Linked DNA regions of Homo sapiens: regions 1 and 2 are each reported to be linked to region 3. The links are microRNA targets in miRTarBase. Many come from high-throughput screens and were not tested one by one. Region 3 holds a microRNA gene; each other region holds the end of a gene's coding sequence.
The links. The annotated mature microRNA hsa-miR-4441 reads ACAGGGAGGAGAUUGUA and lies in region 3 at 3,656-3,672, opposite strand. An mRNA with a match to its seed (bases 2 to 7 or 8) in the 3' UTR can be bound and repressed. Matches are read on the target gene's strand: a 7mer-m8 pairs with bases 2 to 8, a 7mer-A1 pairs with bases 2 to 7 and ends in A, and an 8mer does both.

Region 1: miRTarBase lists ENTPD7 as a target of hsa-miR-4441. Seed matches in the 3' UTR shown: 7mer-m8 at 2,863-2,869.
Region 2: the mRNA of SPRYD3 is a reported target of hsa-miR-4441. Seed matches in the 3' UTR shown: 7mer-m8 at 1,137-1,143 and 7mer-m8 at 1,917-1,923.

What each region holds. Positions count from the first base shown.
Region 1 is chr10:99,703,642-99,710,925 of GRCh38, reverse strand. ENTPD7 (ectonucleoside triphosphate diphosphohydrolase 7) reads right to left here. Exons shown (of 13, transcript NM_020354.5): 13 at 1-6,474. The coding sequence ends at 6,243. It overlaps COX15 (cytochrome c oxidase assembly factor COX15), which reads left to right. Exons shown (of 9, transcript NM_078470.6): 9 at 1-58. Among named protein-coding and RNA genes, the nearest start is that of COX15, 25 kb to the left of the region's middle.
Region 2 is chr12:53,059,659-53,066,942 of GRCh38, reverse strand. It overlaps SPRYD3 (SPRY domain containing 3), which reads left to right. Exons shown (of 11, transcript NM_032840.3): 9 at 251-370; 10 at 457-629; 11 at 977-2,627. The coding sequence ends at 1,111. TNS2 (tensin 2) reads right to left here. Exons shown (of 29, transcript NM_170754.4): 18 at 6,685-7,284; 19 at 6,388-6,538; 20 at 5,679-6,268; 21 at 5,474-5,563; 22 at 5,003-5,128; 23 at 4,698-4,790; 24 at 4,490-4,567; 25 at 4,246-4,323; 26 at 3,686-3,854; 27 at 3,526-3,594; 28 at 3,351-3,380; 29 at 2,564-3,199. The coding sequence ends at 3,061. Among named protein-coding and RNA genes, the nearest start is that of MIR6757, 6.4 kb to the right of the region's middle. RefSeq lists an enhancer at 503-1,004.
Region 3 is chr2:239,082,173-239,089,456 of GRCh38, forward strand. MIR4441 (microRNA 4441) reads right to left here and starts at 3,754; the gene lies at 3,655-3,754. HDAC4 (histone deacetylase 4) reads right to left here. Exons shown (of 27, transcript NM_001378414.1): 19 at 5,387-5,442; 20 at 1,983-2,070; 21 at 1-49.

The DNA.
Region 1 (7,284 bases), not on the chromosome of region 3:
GCACTTACGTCCATTGTTTTTAAAACATGAAGGAAATTAAAACACATGGCTTTCTTAATCAGTCAACCTAGAATTTTTTGTCTGTAACTTAGACTGACAAATACTATCTATTGTAGCAGGGGTAATGACTAGCAACTCCCTAAAGCAATGTTGGTTGCAGAGATCAACACTGATAATCATGATTTTAGGATAACCAGTTTATCTACAGCTACCCTTGTGGTCCTGGGATGAATGGTGGGTTATATATCAGCATATGTAACACATATACCCATGTCCCTGCATAAGGGAGAATGCATCACCTCTCTAACATGCATCACACATTTTCCTCAACACTGACCTAAAATGTTTGTCAGTGAGAATTTTAAGAATTCAAAATTCAACAAAATTATTGTTTAATGTGAAGCAGTAGAAAAAACAGAGTCTTAACAACTCCCCAAAGCAATGTAATACAGGCAGCCTTTGGTTTTTTAAAGTGTAGATCATAATAAAAAGATGTCTTTCACTACACTCCGCAGAGGCCATTGATCAAGGTAGAAATAAAGGGGGAGTACATGGCATGTACTTCAGGACTTCAACTAAAGGGTAATTGTGGAATGAGAATTTCAAATACAACATAGTAACTGAAACACTAGAAACCAAAGTATGTGTCTGGGATCCCTGCTTGCAGAAAAACATTTATGAAGCTAGTAAGGGGCGTCTTCACCAGCAGCAGGCCAAATGCCGGCAAGTGCTCTGTAGGAGGGGCCACTTAGGAAAGTACCAGGGCTGCCTTGGAGTGGAGAAGGAGGAGTGGCCACCAGAGGGTATACAAGTGGTTGCCCTTTAAAAGAAGAGGCTCAGGAGCAGACATGTCTTTATGCTAGCCTGAAGTCATGCATGTGTGGCTATACATAGCCTGTGATTCAGAAGACTTTTCAACTTTGGTTTTCATAAAAATGGCAAGCAATGATGGATTACATTTTAAAAGTGAAAGCCCTTGTAGTATGAGTAATGATTCAGTTTTACTAATAAAAGGATCTCCGTATTGCTCAGATTTTCAGAGAAACAAAATGGTCAACTGGTGTGTTATTCCTTCCTCGTCCCTCTGATAACGGTACTGACAAACTGGAAAATAATGAAATATTAGAGCAAAAGAGAAATGTGTAATAACACAAGAGAAGTCTATTAGGATATAAGGAAGATAAGTAGACAGAGCAGGCTTAAAATGAAGCTTGAACAAGCCATCTGCAGAAACAGAAAACAGGGTAGATGGGACACCCAAACAGGGTGCCACAGCTTTCCAACTTAGATCCAGGTTATGAGAGAATGAGCCAAGAACACAACCTAAAAGTTTTCAATTTGAGGTATATTCACTGTTGCTATTCTATAGTATTAATCAAAATATTATTGACTAATAATCCTGTTATTATTAATCACAACTTTTGGTTTTGAGTCTTAGTTTTTTAACAGCAATATTTTTTGTAACACCAGGAAAATCCTCACAAGTTATTGCCCCAGGGGCTGGAATCTGGAGCTAGCGTCCCTAAGAGACTAATATGGGAGAATTTGAAACATCTGCTATTTCTACCATAATTCTTATTCCCAATCAACATTACACCACATACCACAGCAAAAAGGACAATTAGATACTAGTTTTGAATTAATTTGAAAAGTTTAAAGACAACAAAAAGAAACAGCCCTCTGTTTCTGTAACAGAGTCTGGAAACTGCCCAAGAATTACAACGAAGTTCTTTAATGAGGTAGATGTAATAGGCATTTATACCTTCATCTAGGCTGTAGTCATCTAATGAATTGCTTGGATGTTGTAGTAAAGGAAATTGTATAAAATTGTTTTAAAAAGATGTATAAAATTTAAAAGTACGAAAAGAAATACAGGAACAAGAATAGATGTAGTGAAAACTTGGCACTATTTCTGACAAAGTATTTTTTTCAAAGTTTATTCCTAAATGTGAGCAAAGCAGTCATAAATGAATGTCAGAAGCAGTTGTAAAGATGGGGCATGGTTAGTTGTGGCCAGCTGTTTTATAAAAAATAGATTCTGTTTATACTTGCAGAAAGATTCTGTTAATGAGCATTTCATTGTAGCTGACAAAGTAGTTGGGCTAGGAGGCCAGTCACTATGACTTTGCACATATTACAACTGCTCTAGGCCTCAGTTTTATCACCCATATAAATCAAGGGGGTTGACCAGAAGCTTTAAAACTCTTCTGAAATTTATTATGATTACTATTAGAAACTCTGTTCCCACCAACCTTATCATCAGGGGTTATGGATAAAATAGGAGGCTCTTTTGGGCAGCCTGGTCTTCTAAACCAAAGGACAAAATGCTCTTCCCAAAATCATATGATTTTTCTACCTTGTCTTCTGCCTTTAGTTTCTAATCTTGTCTAGCCTCTTTGTTTGATAGATGAGAACCGAACCAGAGATGGTAAGTGACTGGCCTGGGGTACCAGAGCTAGTAAATGACAAAGCCAGAACTAGAATCCAGGTCTGCTATTCGTTAAGCCTACTGTTCTTTCCCTTAAGTGATACCACTCACTTGTCTTTCATCCCTGACAAAAAACAAAACATAAAACTGTGAGAAGCATCTGTTTAGATGATATCAGTGAGAAGTATAAATTATTTCAAAAATATAAATATGGATGTGATAATAAATGTTAATGCCTAAAAACACTAGCTTAGCAAGTGCATGGCAGACATTTTTCAGCAATCACTGGATATGATCTTGAAGTTAAAGGAATCTCTTAGGATGAGGAGGGGGTGGGGCAGGATACTTTGGAAGACATTTGGAGAATAAATAGAAGATTGGTGGAAAGTGATGAAAATTTCCCAGACCAGAATAGACACTGTGGACTACTAGAGCAGGGAGGGAGAGAGGAGGGCATGGATTAAAGAACTATCTGTTAGGTACTATGCTCACCACCTGGTGATGGGATCTGTACCCCAAACCTCAGCATCACTCAATATACTCATGTAACAAACCTGCACTTGTACCCCCTGAATTTGTTCCTTGGTGTGGGAACAAAAGTTTCCCAGATTAAGGAAATTCAAGGAGCTAAAGTACAGAGAGAAAAAATGGTATAATTTGGCTTAGAGTTAACTGCAACTTAAGTGAATGAAATGCCACATAAATGGGTATTTTACATATTTTTCATTATGTTCTATGACAAGAATTTTGGGGAAAGTGATGGATTGTGCTATCACAAGACTAAAAAGCATCACTACAAGCCACGGACTCCTATTTTGATGTTTGTGACCTGTCTCAGTAATAACAAGAGTCCTAAAACAGTTCAGGTTCATTGTCTCTGTTAACAAGAGTGGTTGGTAAGATTCAAAGGAACCAGTGGAATGTGAATTTTATGACACCATAATTATCTTCATGGGAGAACCACCAAAGTGCAGAAATGCAAATAGAAGAGAAATCTTTAAAAACCAAAGGGTATGGCAAGATAGATTTCTGCTCCTAGAAGCAAATTATTTTATTATAAGGAAGAAATATATTTAAGTAATTGGCTCTCAGCAAGGAGTAAGTGGCTTTTGTTTCTAGCTAATAAGATTTCATTTAAAATCTATTAATTGGGAGAAGAGAATAAACAAAGGAGCCCATACCAATAATAAATATTCAGTTCTTCTGAGGGATATGACAAAATTTTCCTTCAGTACTGTGGAACTCCTGGAGACCTTGCTCATGGTAATAAAGACAAGCCTAGATACCATAATATTAAAGTAATGAACAGGAAATAACACATTAAACACTCCAAGACAAAATAAGAATAAGAAATACATATATATTGAAAAAGTGATAAATGTAGGTATCCTGAGATTCTCAACTATAAAAAGAACAGTAATAGCAATTTGAATAATACACATAAAATCCTTAAGAGTGTCTGCTACATAACAAAGGCATAACAAATAATGGCTATTATTACAGCCAGGATGAAGAATACTAATAAGAGCTTTCAAACTGGACCAACCACTACTTCCGTGTTTCAAGTTCATTTTTAGCACATGAACATGATCACTGTTAGCCAGTGAAGTAGCTTCTGACTAGATCATTGATTAGATCTCACAAAAAACCAAAAATAGTATATGGAAACCAAGATGAGAGCAAAAGAAAACGTTACCTGAGTAGGCAGCTAAAACATATTTTGACATTATTTTTAAGCAGCATTCATAAGGTTCACGGAGCACAGATAATAAAAGAAAAAGCAATGTAGAAGTCTTAAAAACCAAAGGAAATTGCTATGAAAGAAACCCTAATGAAAGGTAAGAGATTTCCAAAGGAAACAGAGGGCAGGTGCAGTAGCTCATGCTTGTAATCCCAGCACTTTGGGAGGCTGAGGTGGGAGGATTGCTTGAGCCCAAGAGTTTGAGACCAGCCTGGACAACACAGACTCCATCTCTAAAAAAATAAAATAAAAAATTAGCTGAGTGTGGTGGCGCACACCTGTAGTCCCAGCTACTCTGGAGTCTGAGTTGGGAGGACTGTTTGAGCCCAGGAGGTTGAGGCTGCGGTGAGCCATGATGTTGCACAACTGCACTCCAGCCTGGGTGACAGCGTGAGGCCCTGTCTCCAAGAAAAAAAAAAAGGAACAGAGTCTTTGCATGCTTAATCCATGTTTATCTAATTTTAAAACAATACAAGACTGGTCATCTTTTTATCTACCAACCAAGGGTCAGTATACTTATTTTTATCTTAGTTTATTTCTAGGATGATCTTAATTTCTTTTTCCCTGTTTTATGAAGCATTTAGTTCCTTTCTGTTCCCAGTATGAAATTTATTTTTGAAGAATTCTACTTTTGTTTTCTTTAAAGCCAGGGACTTTTTCCCCTATTAATCTAATCCCAAAAATCAAAGGTGACGAAAAGAAAAGAAAATGCTCCCAGCCGTGGGAGCATATTCGTGGAAAGGACATTCAAGGCTACATGTAGGAAAGGGTAAAATATAAGAAAGATTCCATGCGGACCCTGATGAAGAGAAATCCTCATGCAATTTAATGGCTAAATGTGGAGGAGAAGCAAAGCTCTGGAAGGGTAGTGGGTGAAGATGTAATTATTATGGCTTTTCCTCTCGCTTCATTAATGGAAGTGCTGTTTGTGACTCAGCAGTCTCTTAATAGAGGTTCTGAAAGTTGCCAGATGGCTTATTAACAGATTGATCTATTCCAAATTTGCTCCCTTTCAGACATTCCAAGAGTCATAAATTGAGAAACTTCTATTTCTCAGAAATAATTAATAAGAACTTTGATTTTATTGCCTTTGCCCACTCTCCTGATTCTGTTCCCCTTTTCTTTAAAAACAACCCAAATACATTCCCCATACTACATACTGATTTTAGCAGTGAAATGAAAGAACTCTCTTTATATCTTCCTGTGTAAGGGCTCACAAAAACAGGCCCAGGGAACAGTGACCTAAAATCAGACAAATCCAGGTTCCCAGTCCCCATCACAGTTTCTCCATCCTACTAACACACTTAAGGCTCAAAAAGCAAAATTAATGCCCAAACAGCCTGTGAGGCACATAAAAATGGAAAAATTTTCTATCCTCATCATACCAGGCATCAGATAAGATACTAAAATCTTCCACAGACCATTCATTTAGAAGGGGTTCTAACCTTTAAAATCATGTACTAACATCATCAACACTACGACAGGGATCTTGGATCACACCCATGATGGCTTCTTTGTCAAGGAAGCAAGGAAGTTATATCATTTTGGTGCCTGGAAATTCCTATGTGGTCGATTGAACTGCAAAGATCTTGGATCCCTGTTAAAGGTTGTGGATCTCCACATAAATGATATCTCTGTTACAGAGAAAGAAGGGGCTGCTGCACTTGCTAGAATGTCTCTGGCTTTGTATCAGATGCTACAAATTTCATTTCAACCAGGCTTCCAGTGTGCCAAATGCCAAACTTCATGCTTTAGCAAGGGAAGAAAAGGTGAGATTCTAGGAACACACCAGACCTCTCAGAAGGAGTCGAAGCCTGCTTCACTTGGACAAAGCTTGGTCCCCCGTATTAGCACCAATCTCCTGTCATTTAGTTCCTCACAGATTAAATTATAGCTTCTCTCAGAGAAGACCTGGGTACGGAGAAGGAATTACGGTAGAAAGTAAAGTAGAAATTCCAAGGGCAAATATCCACAAGGTCAGACATCACAGCATCTGAGGCTATATAAGAAAGTGGAGGAATTCAATGAGCAGCAACTCGGGGGTGCTCAAGCTTCTCTAGTCCTGGTCCAGCCTCACGGCCCCACCTGTACTCCCATCATGGGCACCACCTCTTCAAGCCACAGCAAGTCCAATGGAGCTGAGGCTCGTGTTTGTCGGTGGTGAATTCGGCGTAGCCGCAGAAGGTATAGGAAGATGGCCAGTAGCACCACCAGGATACAGGCAAAGAAGAGATAGTGGTTGTATACAAAGGAGAGACGGAACCAGCTACCATGGGCTTGTCGGACACCTTCCTGCCGAAGATCCCTAGGGAAGAATTAAGAATTTGTAGGTGGAAAAAACTGTTAAGTTTCAAAGGGAGACATTTACTGATTTGAAAGGCCCAGTAGTGTTATCACATTTATTCCATCCACATAAACATTTTATGACACCAGCTCCACAGAGCAGGCAAAGCTGAAGAACATCCCCCGCCCCAGGAGCCCTTCTGTGTCTTCCTTCCCACGGCCCCCAGAAGGGACCTCCAGGCTTACACCCTCCAGAATCTAAGCCAAGATGGGAAGGCCTTTGAAATTGAATCCCAAAAAATGAACAGAAAGGCTAGATTGATCACCTGTAACATAAGTCTTAAAATATGGCTTATAAATACAGTACTAATGAGAATAGGGTATCCCCTGAATCCAATAAAGAAATCAGAGTGTGTGTGTCTAAATCCTTTTTTTAAAGTTGCTATGCAGCCAAGTGCAGTGGCACATGCTTGTAATCAAAGCACTTTGGGAGGCCAGGCCAGGAGAATTGCTTGAAGCCAGGAGTTCAAAACCAGCCTGGTCAACATAACAAGACCCCATCTCTGCAAAAGAAAAATCAAAAAATTAGCTGGGCATGGTGGCGAGCACCTGTATTCCCAGCTACTCAGAAGGCTGAGGCAGGAGAATCACTTGAGCCCAGGAGTTCAAGGTTGCAGTGAGCTATGAACACGGCACTGCCACCACACTCAGCCTGGGCAACAGAGCAAGACCCTGTCTCAAAAAAATAATAAAAAATAAAGGTACTATGTTTCCTTAGGATCTAGGATATATCTAAATAAAGCTGTTACCTGATCAACTGTATTACAGTCAG
Region 2 (7,284 bases), not on the chromosome of region 3:
AGATGTTTCGCCATGCTGGCCATGCTGGTCTCAAACTCCTGACTTCAGGTGATCCACCCTCCTTGGCCTCCCAAAGTCCTGGGATTCCAGGCGTGAGCCACCGCGCCCGGCCTCTCTCTCCATCTTTGTTTCCGCCCTGACCCTTCCCTTCCTCTGAGGGGTGGGAAGTGTTCAGCTTCATGAGCCACTCTGGGGGTGTGGTGTCAGCCCTCCTTCCTCAAGTGTTTGTCCTTTCCCCTCCCTCCAACAGACGATGGGAAGATCTTCCATGGCAGTGGTGTGGGGGACCCCTTTGGGCCACGCTGTTACAAAGGGGACATCATGGGCTGTGGAATCATGTTCCCCCGGGACTACATTTTGGACAGTGAGGGTGAGTGGGGTAGGGGTGGCCAGCCAGGCTGCTTGGGGCCGAGGGTGGAAAGGCACCACAGGAGCTCAGGTTTCCTGGTCTCCTAGGGGACAGTGATGACAGTTGTGACACAGTGATCCTGTCTCCGACTGCCCGGGCCGTCCGGAACGTGCGGAATGTCATGTACCTGCACCAGGAAGGGGAAGAGGAAGAGGAGGAAGAGGAAGAGGAAGAGGATGGGGAAGAGATAGAGCCGGAGCATGAGGGCAGGAAGGTGGTGGTGAGTACGGAGAGTTTGAGGTGGGACCAGGGTTTTTGGGTCTGGGCAAAGGGTGGGTATTAGTGGGGAACAGAACTCACAACCAGGGTGGGAAAGACGGGAAGCTCTGGCGTTGCCCAAGGGCTGTTCCCAGCTCCAGGGGTTGCTGAGATCGGGAGACGGTCTTGGGAGGCTGTTTTCCGGCCTCAGCACGCCCTCTGGTGGTCACTTCCCATAACACCTTAACTGCCCCTCTCCAGCCCCGCTGGAAGCTGGGGTGATTGGGGTTCAGGCCTGTGGAGCTCCAGCATCCTCAGGGAAGAGGCCACAGCCTGCTTGCTCCATTCTTCTCCCCACCTCCTCCCCAGGTTTTCTTCACTCGGAATGGCAAGATCATTGGGAAGAAGGATGCTGTTGTTCCTTCTGGAGGCTTCTTCCCCACCATTGGAATGCTGAGCTGCGGGGAGAAAGTCAAAGTAGATCTGCACCCCTTGAGTGGCTAGGGCCTCCCCTCCAGACCTGCTCCTTCTCCCTGCTCACCCTCTGCTGGGCCAGGCACCCAGTTCCTGACTTCCCAGAGGCTTCGTTTACCCAGCAGGCCCCTGGAGGTGTGTAGTCACTCTGCCCCCACTGGCTCAGGCCCCTGTCACGCTTCTCTGTGCCCACGTTTCTGACCTGGTGCTGCCACTGTTGTCAGTCCCTGGGCCTGAGTCCCTGGTTGGACAGGAATGGACCCAAAGAATGGTGTTGGTATGTGGGTGGTCCCACTCGCTTTGGTCAGTGGGCTTCTGGGTCCCCCTTTCCCTCACCGGCCCTGTGTGGGTGGAGAGGCGTGAGCACCCTATCTCAGCTGCTATTCGGGCATGATGCTTTGTAGAGGGTAGAGTAGACAGCCCCCTCCCCTACTCACCATGGTATTTCTCCTTGAATTCCTCTTTCTTGTTTTCTTTCCTGGTTGTGTGAACCAGTTGCTGCTGTCATACCCCTGGCAGGGCCAGGGGACCTCTCTTTGGTCATCTCTGTCCTTTCACTGGCTGCTGCCCCAGGAAGACTCCTCTAGGCTCTCCATCTTTCCCTTGAGAGCTGGCTCCCCACCCCAACCTGCTCAGGCACCACAGAGGATCTAGGTCTCTGGCTCCCCATACCTGGACCCACATGGGTGGGTGCCTGTTGCATGTTTAAGAGAGAGGGGCTGTGAGGTGACAGGGCACTAGGGCCTTCACTCCTTTCTCCCCTTCCATCCTTTCTTTACCAGTGCCACCCATGTCCCTAGCTCCCGGGTATTGGGGCTGAGGCTCTGGGGCCTGTCTCCCTGCCAGCGTGAGGGCAAGACCCCAGAGCCTTAGCTGAGCAAGCCCAGAGGGGCAGCGTGGCCCCTCCCTCCCCTTTTCCTGCCCCGTCCCATGCCTCAGCTTGCTGCTTGTGCCAGTTGCCTGTTTCGCTTCAGTGTTTGATTCTAGCACTTACATGTGTCCTCCCCACCAAGCCCTCTATCTCCTTCTAATCCTTCAACCCCTGGCCCCCTCCCCGTAACAGTGACTTTTCCAGGGAGGAAGAGGCAGCAGGAGCTGTTGGCCTTGGTTTGCACAGAGCGGGTAGGGCTGTAGGGAAAGCGGGTGAGCTGTTGTGCTGCTGGGCCTCCCTTTGGCCCTCGCTTCCCACCCTACGATGTATGAAATGTATGTACAGACCAGAGATGTTTATACAGCCGATAAAGATGGAGTTTCCGTATTTATCAGTATGGCCGGAACCAGGAGCCTTTCTAGTCCACTGGGCTAGGAACAGGACTGCTGGATGGGGGCAGCCGAAGGCAGCTTGCTCATGGGGAGATGTGGACCAATGTTGGGCCAGGGATGGGAATCATATGTTCCATGGGCCTGGCTACAGGCCTGAGCACAGATACGTCCCCTGGGAGATGAGGCTTTGACCTTCCTGTGAATAAGTGTTGACTCCAATTTCGGCTAAAGTTTATAGAAATTCTTTATTATTAGACAAAAATAGACTCTCTTTTTTCCCCTATTCATGTGATCCTACTCTGAATCTCTGCTCAGAGGAGGCAGTGACTCGCTCCCCACCCCTCTCCCATCCCTGCCGTGCTGGCACCTGCAGCTGGGTGGAACTGGCAGGGGCTGATCCCCTGGAGGGCTGACGTTCTCCTGCAGGTGGGGCTGCCTGATCTCCTTCGGGGCTCAACTGCTGATGCCTCCTCACCCCTCACACACCCATCTCTGCCATCTGCTCACATGCAAGGTCATCTTGTGGGCCTGTCCACTTAACTTAGCAGGCTGGGGGCGGGGAAGGAGAGCAGTGTCCCAGGCCTGATGCCCACTCCTCATTCCTAAGGGAGGGTGCTTTCTCCTGGGTCTCCTGGGTCCAGGCCAGGGGATGTGAGGGCTGTGGGGTGCTGGGAGGGGGGCAGTGTTGATGTGGGCTCTGAGCTTGTGGCCTTCCTTCATTTTCTCTGGCCCAGTAGAACTTTGGTGATGAAGGTGACAATGGCGCCAGCAGGCTGATCTGGGTCAAGCTCTGCAAAGAGGTGACACACATTCTCCCAGGGGCTTCCCGGCTTCTTGGCCACGAAACCAAAGATCCTAGGGGGATAAAGGGTGGGGAAGGGGCTTAACATTCCTTCCACAAGGGAATGTAGCTGGCCTTGGTGAGACAAATCAAATGCCAGCATTGAGAGGACAGCAGCGCCCTGGTCCCTTGGAAGGAAGAGGCTGAATTCGTGGGGAGGCTTACTTGGAGGTGGTCCCGTCTGGGTTGGTCCATCTGCAGAAGGAGAAGAAGGTGAAGATGCACACCCCAGGGGACAGCTGCTGAAGGGGGGCCGGGGCCGGGGCTGGGGCTGGGGCTGGGAGCTGGGACCTGGTGGGACCATGGGGATTTGGGGCAAAGGGTTTGGAGGGAGAGTCACCTCCGGTCTTGAGGGTCAGTGCTGGAGAAGGTGATGCTGTTCACTGGATAATGGCGGCGAAAGAAGAGCCTGCAAGGAGGAGGGTGAGGAAGGTCACACTCAGAAACATGAGCCCCCAGGGGCCTTAAGCATGGGGTTCTACAGGGCTGAGTATACATACTTCCTTTGGTTGTCCGTCAGTGTAATGCCCTGGGCTGACACCTTGAAGTGGACAACAGCTGGTGTCGGGCGGGGGCTACAGCTCAGAGCTGCAGAGCTGGCCCGGGCCACAGCTTGGGGGCCCGTCAGTGACTCTGTCTCCACTGAGGTCAAGTAGAGCACGCTGCAGGCTACAGGGGCAGGGAGTGGGTCAGGGAGGGAGTGCCCATCCCCTAGCCACCCCCACCAGCTCTTGCACATTCCCCAGCTACTGCTGTCACATGCTTTACAATCACATAGGTGACTTGTTAAAAAGGCAGATTCCATGACTCTACTGGATCTACAGTCAGAAGCGAGGCAGAGAAGCCTCCCTGCTACCACCCCATGATCGTCTTGTTCATGAGACTTTGAGAACCTAGGCTGAGGACCCAATTCCTCATCCCCGACAGTATGGGGCTCCCCTGCCCTCATGGGTTGGCCAGGGCTCACCCACCTCAAGGCCTTTCAGTGCCCCATGCCCTGTATCCACAATGCCCCCTTGGTGCCCAGGGAGAGGGAGGGGAGTGGAGGGGAAGTCTCTACCAGCACCCTGACGCAGGAGGTCTGCCGCTGTGCTCATGTTGGTGGGCACTGGAGCCTCTGGGGTCTCTTCCAGAGGATCTGAGGGCAATGAGAACCGACAGGGAAGCTCAGAAGGCAGAGTGTTCCCCAGGCTGGAGCACTCCCTCTGCTTCCCCAAGGGAAGGCGGGGAGCCAAGACCTCTGGATCCTGCTTTGGCTGCAGGGGGTAGGGAGAGGTGGGGAGGACAGATGACCAGACACTCACCTTTGCTGGGAATGCGCAGGCAGCAGGGCAGGGAGATGGGGGAGATGGAGTGCTGGGAGACCAAGGCGGACAGGCTGCCTGTGGGAGAGGAGGTAGGAAAGTCCCGAGATGCCCAGGGTGCCCCGCCTTTCCCTTCCATCCTCCTGAGATCCCTTGGCATCTCCCTAAACCGACCCAACGTAGCCTTCCCCAGGCTCCTGCTTCTCACCAAAGTAGGGCTCACTGGGGCAGCCCTTGATCTTCACCCCTTTGGGCCCAGTCTCGATGAGGAAATGGCGGACCAGCTGTTCCACGGGGTCCCCTGAGAGGAGGCGAGGGGAAGATTGCGGCTTTAGGATTCCAGGTTCCAGCTTCTTCCCTAATGGGATTCTTTCCCGAGCAGCTGAGGTCTTTTCCTACCTCTCCCCTCTACAGCGGCATGGCCAGCACAGCACCCCCACCTGCCCTGTTACCTTGCCTCTGGCACCACCCCCAACTTCATCCCCACCCCACTCAGGTTTGGGTGTTCTGTACCTTTCCAGGGCTGGGCACTGGGTGGCGGTGTGGCCACCTTGAGGGCCAGCCCATAAGCTCCTTGGAATGAATGACTGTCCCTGATCAGGAAGGCCCCAGGGTCCTTGTCCTTCAGCAGGGCAATGGCTGCAGGGTGAGGGGTAGCGGGCAGTGGGGAGGAGTTTTCACAGGGGTGGACTGAGCCCCATGCAGCCCCCCTCCTCTGCTGCCAAGCTCCATGGTCTCTGCCCTGACAGCTGTGGTGGCGGTAAGAGTCTGAGGCCAGGGCTCTAGAGTTCACAGGGGTTTTGACCATGTTGGATCTCACCGCCTTGGCCCAAAGCCCAGAATCACCTGCTGGTAAACACTCAGCCAAGAGTAAACACAGCTCAGACAGGAGGAGCCAAGAGCTTCAACAGGATGGGACTTAAAGCCAAGACAGACACCCTGGAAGGTGGGATGCAGTGGGGTGGGGGCAGGCTGGCTTCTCACCTTGGTCACGGGACAGGTGTGGCTTGTACCAGAACTTGGATGTATCCTGGACAAACTTGACATTGCTTTGGCTCTCTTGTGTAGGAGGCTCTAGGACAGGGAGGGAGTAGGTTCAGACCCCAGGGTACCCGGGTCCCCATCCATGCTACATCCCAGGAGAAAGGGTTCTCTCAAGGTGGCACCAACCCCCTCAAGGCCTTTATACCTGGGGTTTGGGGGACATTATCTGAGAGCAGAGGTGCGAAGGTGACATGGTGACTGATGCCTCTGGCTGGCGATGATGCCTGCTCTGGGCCCCAGGGTCCTGGCTGTTGCCCCGGCCCGGGCAGGTGGCGTTTCTCAGGAAGTGGGGGCTGGCTAAGGCCATTGGTGTCATAGGAGGCAGCCAGGGGGAAAGCAGGTGTAGGTGAGCTCTGAGGCGGCTCTGGGCTGGCCACAAGCCAGGGCATCTGGGAAGGCACAGGAGTGAGGGGAGACCCATCTGGGCTGTCGGGGGGGCCTCGAGGGCCTTGCCAGGGGGCGTGGCGGAGGCCAGGAAGTGTGGTGGGCACAGGGCTCCGAGGACTGGCGCCATCTGAGTGGCCCCCTGGACTCCTTTCCTGAGGCCAGTCACTGGGCGAGCTGGGAGGGAAGGTCGGAGAGACTGGGCTAGGGGCCAGAGGCTCAGGCCCACTTCCCGACGGCAGCTCAGGGGCCTTTCCGGTGCCTGCCTGGGAAACAGGGGGCAAGGCCTCGCCAGGACTCAGTCTCTGAGTGGGCGCTGAGGTGGGGGACCTGGTGTCCTGTCGCCGGGTGCTGTAGGGTGGAAGGGCAGATGGTCAGCAGAGCCCCCATTGTGGCTGCTCCCACCCCACCTGCCTTCATCAACTGCTTGGACAAGAAAGCACTCGAGCATCCCCGGCCCCTCTGCATACCTTTCCTTGCCCTGGACTGGACTGCTGGTGTGCAGGGGCGTGGAGGGACCAGACAACTCTGACGAAGCACTGCATGGGGCATCTCGGGGAGACCGAGGCAGTGTGCTGTGCCCACTGGGGCCCTCCCTCCAGGACACCGGCTCCAGCGACTCTGCAGTGAAGGGGAGAGGTGGGCTGTGAGCAGGATGGGGCTCTTCTGTCTGGCTTAGCTGTTTCTCACCCTGTTCCCCCTTGACTTCCCCACCATCTTCCAGAACCTCCTCTGCCCTGGGCACTCCGCACTCTGGTGCCCCTCACCTGCAGATGCCAAAGGTCCTGCTGAGGCCAGGTGCCCAGGCAATGGGTACCTGTCCCCTCCCTCCTCCGTAGGGATCTCGTAGCTCAGCTTCCTAGATTGTGGATAGGGCGGGCTGCCCGGGGAAATGGAGCCAGCCCGTGGGGAGTGGGCACCAGGGCTGGGATACCCTCTGCCCTCTCCTGGAGAGCCACAGCTATGAGGCACACGGCCATATGCTGGGCAGTAACTGGGAACTGCTCCTCCATAGCTGTATGTCACCAGGGCAGGGTACCCTGGATGCCCATACCTGCCTTCGGGGCACATGGTGTAGGAGCAGCCCTCGTGCCCTTCCTCGCCTGCCTTGGGTGGCTTCAGGCAGCTGTAGTCAGGCATCGGGGCATGGTGATGCCCACAGGCAGGCAAGAGCAGAGGCAGCGGGTGCCCAGGCCGCACTGGGTGCAGGAGAGGCTTGCCAGCCTCACTTGCCCACCCTTCTCCAGCCTCCCTCTCCAGCCGCAGTCCATACAAGGCTGCTGTAGGCAGCGCCAGCTTCTCCTCGCAGGCTGGGCATGGGTATAGGGCAGGCAGCCCAGGGTCCTCCAGGATGACCACCTCCCGGT
Region 3 (7,284 bases):
TGGGGTCGCTGTAGAAAGCCTGCTGGGTCCCGTTTCCATGGTGCACGTCCTTAAAGAGCAGGGACAACTACTTCAGGGCTGAGGCAGGTATTGGAGGGTGGCCTCCCCTGAGGGCCGTCCCCAACCCCAGTTGTGCTTAGTGACAACGGCTCCTGCTCAGGAATGACATTACCCTCCAGCTGGGCCCGTACCCGGCAGGCGCGATTCTGGGGCTGTGTGGGTCAGGGCTACGTGGTGCAGGGTCGCAGGGGTTCTAAGGGCCAATGTTCGCGTCTGCAGCACTGTTTCCCTCGCCCTTAGCGCCATGGCACAATCCTGACTCCAGCAGCCGATGGGGCTGGAGTTCAGCCAGGCCTAGAGGCCACCATTTCCCAGACGAAGCCATCTGATCAATTTCCTACACCTGCCGTGTCTCTGACAAGTGAGCCACTTCCTCAGCCTCTGTCAGGAAGGAGGTCACTGGCTGTGGCCTGCCCGCTTGCAGGCACGTGGGAGGTGCCAATTCCATGCCAGGCAGGGCGTTCGGCAGGAGACAAGTCCCAGGTGTCCGTGAGTGACAGGCACACACAGTACGGGGTCCAGGCCCCTGTGCCCAAATGGCAAGCACCGTTTCTTAATCACAAAACCCACAGGTCAGATGCAGCAGAGAGCACAGGCAGCCTGGGGCTTTACTGACCGTGGCTGTTCTGCCCCGGGCCACAGGGCAGGTGGTCACCAGGATGGGCGGGCGAGGGGGTGGCCCCGCTGAGAACAGCTGTGTGCCTGAGAAGACAGCATGCAGCCCTGATGTTCCCAGCACGAGAACTTGCTGCTCCGTTATCTGTGCTCATCACAGAAAAGGCGGAAGGGCAGCTACAGGTGAGGAGCGATGGACAAGAACCTTCCACCCCACAGAGTAGGTAATCGCTGTGAAGACGCACATGGAGGCTTTCCCGACATGTGGCTTCACACTGAGATGACCCTGTCCGCATGGTGTGTACATGGGCAATATCACAGCTCAGCGCGCAGGGAGCACGCCACACAGGGTCTACGCAGCCTGTCTGCGTGTCCTAGCGCTTCACTCTTTTGGGGATGGGTCCCCAGTCTTTAGCCATCAGCGACCTCACACTGCTCTCTTCCCAGGCACTCCTACCTGCTCCCTTAGGAGGAGCTGAGGGAGGGCTCCCGGCTCGCAGGTCCTTGGGTGTGGGGGACCCGCTGCTCTGCCGCATCCCCTGACCTGCCTCTCCGAAACAGCATGGCTGTCCTGGCTGTGCCATATTGTTTCTTTACCCAAACTCAGAAGGACTTCTCCAATTCAAATCATAACCCTACCTGACAGGGCCTGCTTTTTTCCCTTAAAAATTATGAAATAAATCATAAATACCAAAGAGAACACTAAATATGTATATATCTGGCTTTAAAAAGAGTAATAAGATGAATATCTTGAATATTAATTTCCGGTATAAGAATGAGTATACCTATTCGTGGAATTCAGATTCGGACATCATATAGCATTATTTAAAAAGAGATGACTCTTTTGGGGGCAGTGGCACCCCCCATTCCAGCAGGACCAGGTGCCCACACAGCAGCAGGAAGGCACGGGCTTCACTGGGGTGACTGAGAAGCAGACTGCCGCCTTCGACCAGGGTGAGGGTCCTCCCAGGCTCCCAGGCCACACACGCAAAGTAGATGTGGACACAGCCTCCTCCCCAACACCTGTCTTCCAAGAAGATCTCGTCGAGGGTGGCCCTGGCCGCTGCCGTCACCCACAGGCACATTTTTAGACACGCCAGGACCCCATTCGCCAGGGTCGGCTGACGGAAGCTGTACAATGACTTGTAGCAGGTTTGGGGCTTTACTTCTCCGCATCTTTGAGACCGTTTCCAGAAACCTAAGCTTCCCACATCCAAGAGCCCAGCTCCTCTGTCCACACGCTGCTGTCCGCTCGGGGACGGCAAAGGAGCAACCTGAGCTGCGCTGGCCAAGGCGGCTCTGCTTACCCAGTCCACGATGAGGATCTTGCTCACGCTCAACCTCTGCTGCAGAAGCTTGGCTGCCACGGCCACGGAGTTGAAGTAGCAAAAGCCCCTGCGGGAGAGAACTGACGCTGGAGACGAAGCGCAGGTGGGCGGTGGCCAGTTTCTCCACGGCCCGCCAGAGAGCCACTCGGGGTCCACGCAGACCTAAGAGGTCTCTGTGAGTGCAGAGCTCCTGAATACGTCGCAGGGAACCCTCAGTGATGCCGGAGAATCGGTTAACAGACAGACACGTACACACCCCACATGCAGACACACTCACACGCGTGCGCGCGCACACACACACACACACACACACAGCTCCCAAACAAGCCACTGGGGAATCTTAGCCAATGCCATAGGGTCGGCTAACCGACACGGACATGCACACACCCCACACAGACACACACACCACAGACAGAGACACACACACACCCCCCACAGACACACACACCACAGACAGAGACACACGTACACCCCACACAGACACACACACCACAGAGACACACCCTCCCACACAGACACACACACCATGCAACACGCCCTACACACATACATGCCCCACAGATACGCCCATACACCACAGACACACACCCCACACACACTCCACACAGACACACACCCCACACACACCCCACACCCCACAGATAGAGACACACACACCATGCAAACGCCCTACACACATATATGCCCCACAGATACGCCCATACCCACCCCCCCCACGTAGACACACATGCACAGATACACATGAACACCCCATACAGAAACACTCACACACACACAAACCACAGACACATACAAGCACACACACACATATACACATAAGCATATACCTATCACACACATCCACAGTTCCATACTGAGACAGACAGACACACACACACACACACACACACACACACACTCTCCTGCTTGGAGGTCCCCCACGCTCCTCTGGTAGGGAACCCTATTTCACATGTTACCAACATTTCCCTCATCTTCACCTGGAACCCTTCCTCTCAGGAGCTGCCGCCACGCCCCAGGAGACATGGCAGCCGTTCATCTCAGTTGCTTCCTGCTGACCTTCCTATATTCCAATACATAAATTACCTTTAATTTTAGAGAGTCTTACTCAAGAGACCAAGAAAACAAGCTATGAAAGTGATTCAAATAACAACGAAAACCTTCTTGATCTCAAATTCCCTTTGTCCGAATGACCACAGAAACGGAGAAACACTAGTTGTTTTGTTTTCAGAATCCGGGCTGGCATGGGGAAGCCCACACGCCCCAGGACATCCTAGACGCTGAGCTCCTGCAGCGGCTCACGGGGAGCACAGCGAAGAGCTGCAACAAAACACAATTCGTTTGTCTCCTCTGAGGTTTATTATTTGGAATATCCAACAACTCAGGTTCAAATTAGAAAAGAAACTTCAGAGAAATGAAACAAACAGGAAGCCTGGTGCCCAAGTGACTGTTCTGGGATGTGGAGCAAACACGTGGTTTTCAGGTAAAGCTACAAAGATTCCAACAAGCATCCCTCCCTGGCGGTTACAATCTCCTCCCTGTACACGAAGGACACTCTGCTCTAACACGCGGATCTGACTATCTCTCACGTACAATCTCCTCCCTGTACATGAAGGAGACTCTGCTCTAACACGCGGATCTGACTATCTCTCACGTACAATCTCCTCCCTGTACACGAAGGAGACTCTGCTCTAACATGCGGATCTGACTATCTCTCACGTACAGTCTCCTCCCTGTACACGAAGGAGACTCTGCTCTAACACGCGGATCTGACTATCTCGCACGTACAGTCTCTTCCCTGTACACGAAGGAGACTCTGCTCTAACACGCGGATCTGACTATCTCTCACGTACAGTCTCCTCCCTGCACATGAAGGAGACTCTGCTCTAACACGCGGATCTGACTATCTCGCACGTAGTCTCTTCCCTGTACACGAAGGAGACTCTGCTCTAACACGCGGATCTGACTATCTCGCACGTACAGTCTCTTCCCTGTACACGAAGGAGACTCTGCTCTAACACGCGGATCTGACTATCTCTCACGTACAGTCTCCTCCCTGCACATGAAGGAGACTCTGCTCTAACACGCGGATCTGACTATCTCGCACGTAGTCTCTTCCCTGTACACGAAGGAGACTCTGCTCTAACACGCGGATCTGACTATCTCGCACGTACAGTCTCCTCCCTGTACATGAAGGAGAATCTGCTCTAACACGCGGATCTGACTATCTCTCACGTACAGTCTCCTCCCCGTACATGAAGGAGAATCTGCTCTAACACGCGGATCTGACTGTCTCTCACGTACAATCTCTTCCCTGCACACGAAGGAGACTCTGCTCTAACATGTGGATCTGACTATCTCTCACGTACAGTCTCCTCCCTGTACGTGAAGGAGATTCTGCTCTAACACGCGGATCTGACTATCTCTCACGTCCTGCCGGCCCCTCCGTGGACGCCTGACTTCCCAGGGGTGACAGGGAGGCCCTTTCCCGGGCCCCTGCGGTTCTGTCTTGTTCTGACTGCTTCCTGGCCACAGCCTGATAGTGAACTTGTATCTGCACTTGTTCTTGCGTTGCCATCTGACAAACTGCTGCTCCAACTCTCCAAGGCAGAGCCCTATGCCACCTCCTCCTCACCGAAGCTGGCAAGATCAGGCACGCCTTCTCCATCTCCAGAGCATGGGGAGACGCTCTTTCTAGCACCACCCCTCCTCACTAGAGCGGCTACCGTCCCAGGAGACAGCATGCTCTTTGACGGGATAGATCATTCATTCACCACCCAGGCTGCAAGGCACTCCACAGACAGCTGCGGGTCTGTCCTGCCACTGGCTCTGGACACACAGGGATGGATCCGGGAGGACCCACACCCCACACTCGCCACCCTGCCCAGATCCTCAGCTGTATGGACCGTCGGCAGTCTCTGAAAGACCCGAAACAGCATCAGGATAGCTGCCTGCATGGACGTGGCTCTGTGGCTTGCTGCGTCAGTACCAGGCATTCGGCAGGCAGCTAAAAGGCCATGCGCAAAATGACCTGAGTCCTCTAGACAAGCAAGTGCTGCAGTGACTCACTTGAGGGTGAGTGGTGTTTCCTCTCCCAAGTGTTGACAACTACTCAACAACCAGAGGCTTCTCTGGACTAACCTCCACAGACCCTTTCCCATCCTTTCCTCTGATCTGTCTCCGTCATAACCGAGCAGTGATGCTCGCAGACTTTGGCATCTGCACTCCACACCCAGGAGCTGGAGCCAAGCCGGCATGCGGCACATCCTGGGTGGCCAGCAAACAGCAGCCCAGCTCCCCGCAGTCACTCACACACCCACCCAGCCCTAAGGGAGGGAAGGAAGACCTGGGTTCCCCTGCTGTGCGGGGCTGCGGCGTGTACTCACATGGGCGTGCTCTCCTCCGCATGGTGTCCAGGGGGGCGGACCACAGCAAAGCCATTCTGCAGGTGACACCAGACAGCCAGGAGAGAGCAACAAAAGACACACTTTGTAGCCACGGGAAAATGGTTGCACACTCAACTTTTAGCAGAGTTGGGCTACACAGGAGGACAGTTTCTTGCTGCACCCTGGCCACAGTGATGGGGACAGGATGCAGGGCCAGCTGGGAGCCTTTCCGGGAAGCCTGGGCCCTTCTCCTAAAGAGGTCTGGGGGCTACTAATGGTTCCCCCGAAACGCAGTCACTAGGATAACAGGTGGGTGCCTGCCCACTCTCAGAACTGTCGGTGAGGCGTGGTGCCCTTGGCTCAGGGGTCGGGGTGATGTGGAAAGGATGTGCTCACTCCCCGTCGGCTCGGGACCAGGACCCGCTAGGTGGCCACTGGAGGAAGATGAAGCAGAAGGGGCCCCACTCAAGGACTTGGCCGCGGGGCAGAGACGTTGTGTCCCAGCTTGGCCTTCACGTGACTGCCTCTGTCCTTACTGCAGTTCAGCTCTCAGGATGGCGGGCAAGTGGGCAGCCCACGAAACAGCTCCTCTCACACTGGGCAGAAACGCTGTCCTCTGCCCCATCACTTCTGCGTCAAAAATCCATCTGCAAACCACTCTGTAGTTGCTGCCATAAAAATGGATTCCAGTCCTCTCCTGGTCTCACCAGCAACAGGACACTGTGTGGTCAAGGTCTGTAATGAAGCCTCAAAAAAAGTGCCGGCCAACCATGAGTGACAATGCCATGGACGGGGTGAGCCGGACGCCGCAGGGACCAGGCTCAGGAAGGGGCGAGGGCAGCCCATGAGGTGGCGGCAAACGCTCTCAAGAGGCCCTGGCCTCCCTGCGTTTCTGCACTCAGTGCTTCCGAGTGTAGGCTGCAGACCCCTCGGTCCCGACCCCTGCTGAGGGTCTGTAGTCCACGTAGTCCTGAGGCTCTATGTACTCTTTTCACTGCCCTGACACCTGCGCCGATGGTGCTGAAGCACCGGAGGGTAGACGGCGGGCAGGGAACAGCACCAGGGCGTGTGTGTGTGTGTGAGCAGCTTCTCTTAACAATGTGCTCGATGAAGCAGTATTCAGACATTTTAGTAGATCTCCGCCCTCAAACACGTCCTTTTAACATCCCGAGTAAAGAGACGGGAAGGAAGCGTGAGAAACTGTGAGCTTTCCAGTGAAAATTACAAGTTTGGAACACACGGCTCTGCCCCTGTGAGCCTGCTGGCTCTCTCACTACTTATAAGACTTCTGGTGAGATGGGGGTGATATTAATGGTTTCAAAAATTAATGACTTTTTTGATACTGTATGGGTCAGAATATGGAAGATCCATGTAACTCCGTGAAGCTAAGTTTCCAAATGACCAACGCACGGTGCTACCAATCACCCATGAACGAAGGATCGATTTGATCTCCAAGAAGGGCTAATGGTTCAGTTAAACAAAACGGAGGGGGAGGAGGCCACGATTTGATTTCAGATCCACACTGCAGCTAATTTTCAAGACACTACCACTTGCTGAATTTTTGGTATACTGTCAAAGAATACCCACAATTAGAATACCTCTGAAAAGTCTATTAAAATCCTGCTCCCATTTCCAATTACGTATCTGTGTGGGGCCAGGATTCCTTCATGTACTTCAACATGTCCCAAGAATGACGCCGGGCAGGTGTGAGAACCAGCTGCTGTCCACAGGCAAGACATTAGTGCTATTTTTATTTTTTTATTACTTTTTAATTTTTTAGTTTTTTTTGAGACGGAGTCTCACTCTGTCACCCAGGCTGGAGTGCAATGGCGTGACTCGGCTCGCCGCAACCTCCACCTCCCAGGTTCAAGCGATTCGCCAGCCTCAGCCTCCCAAGT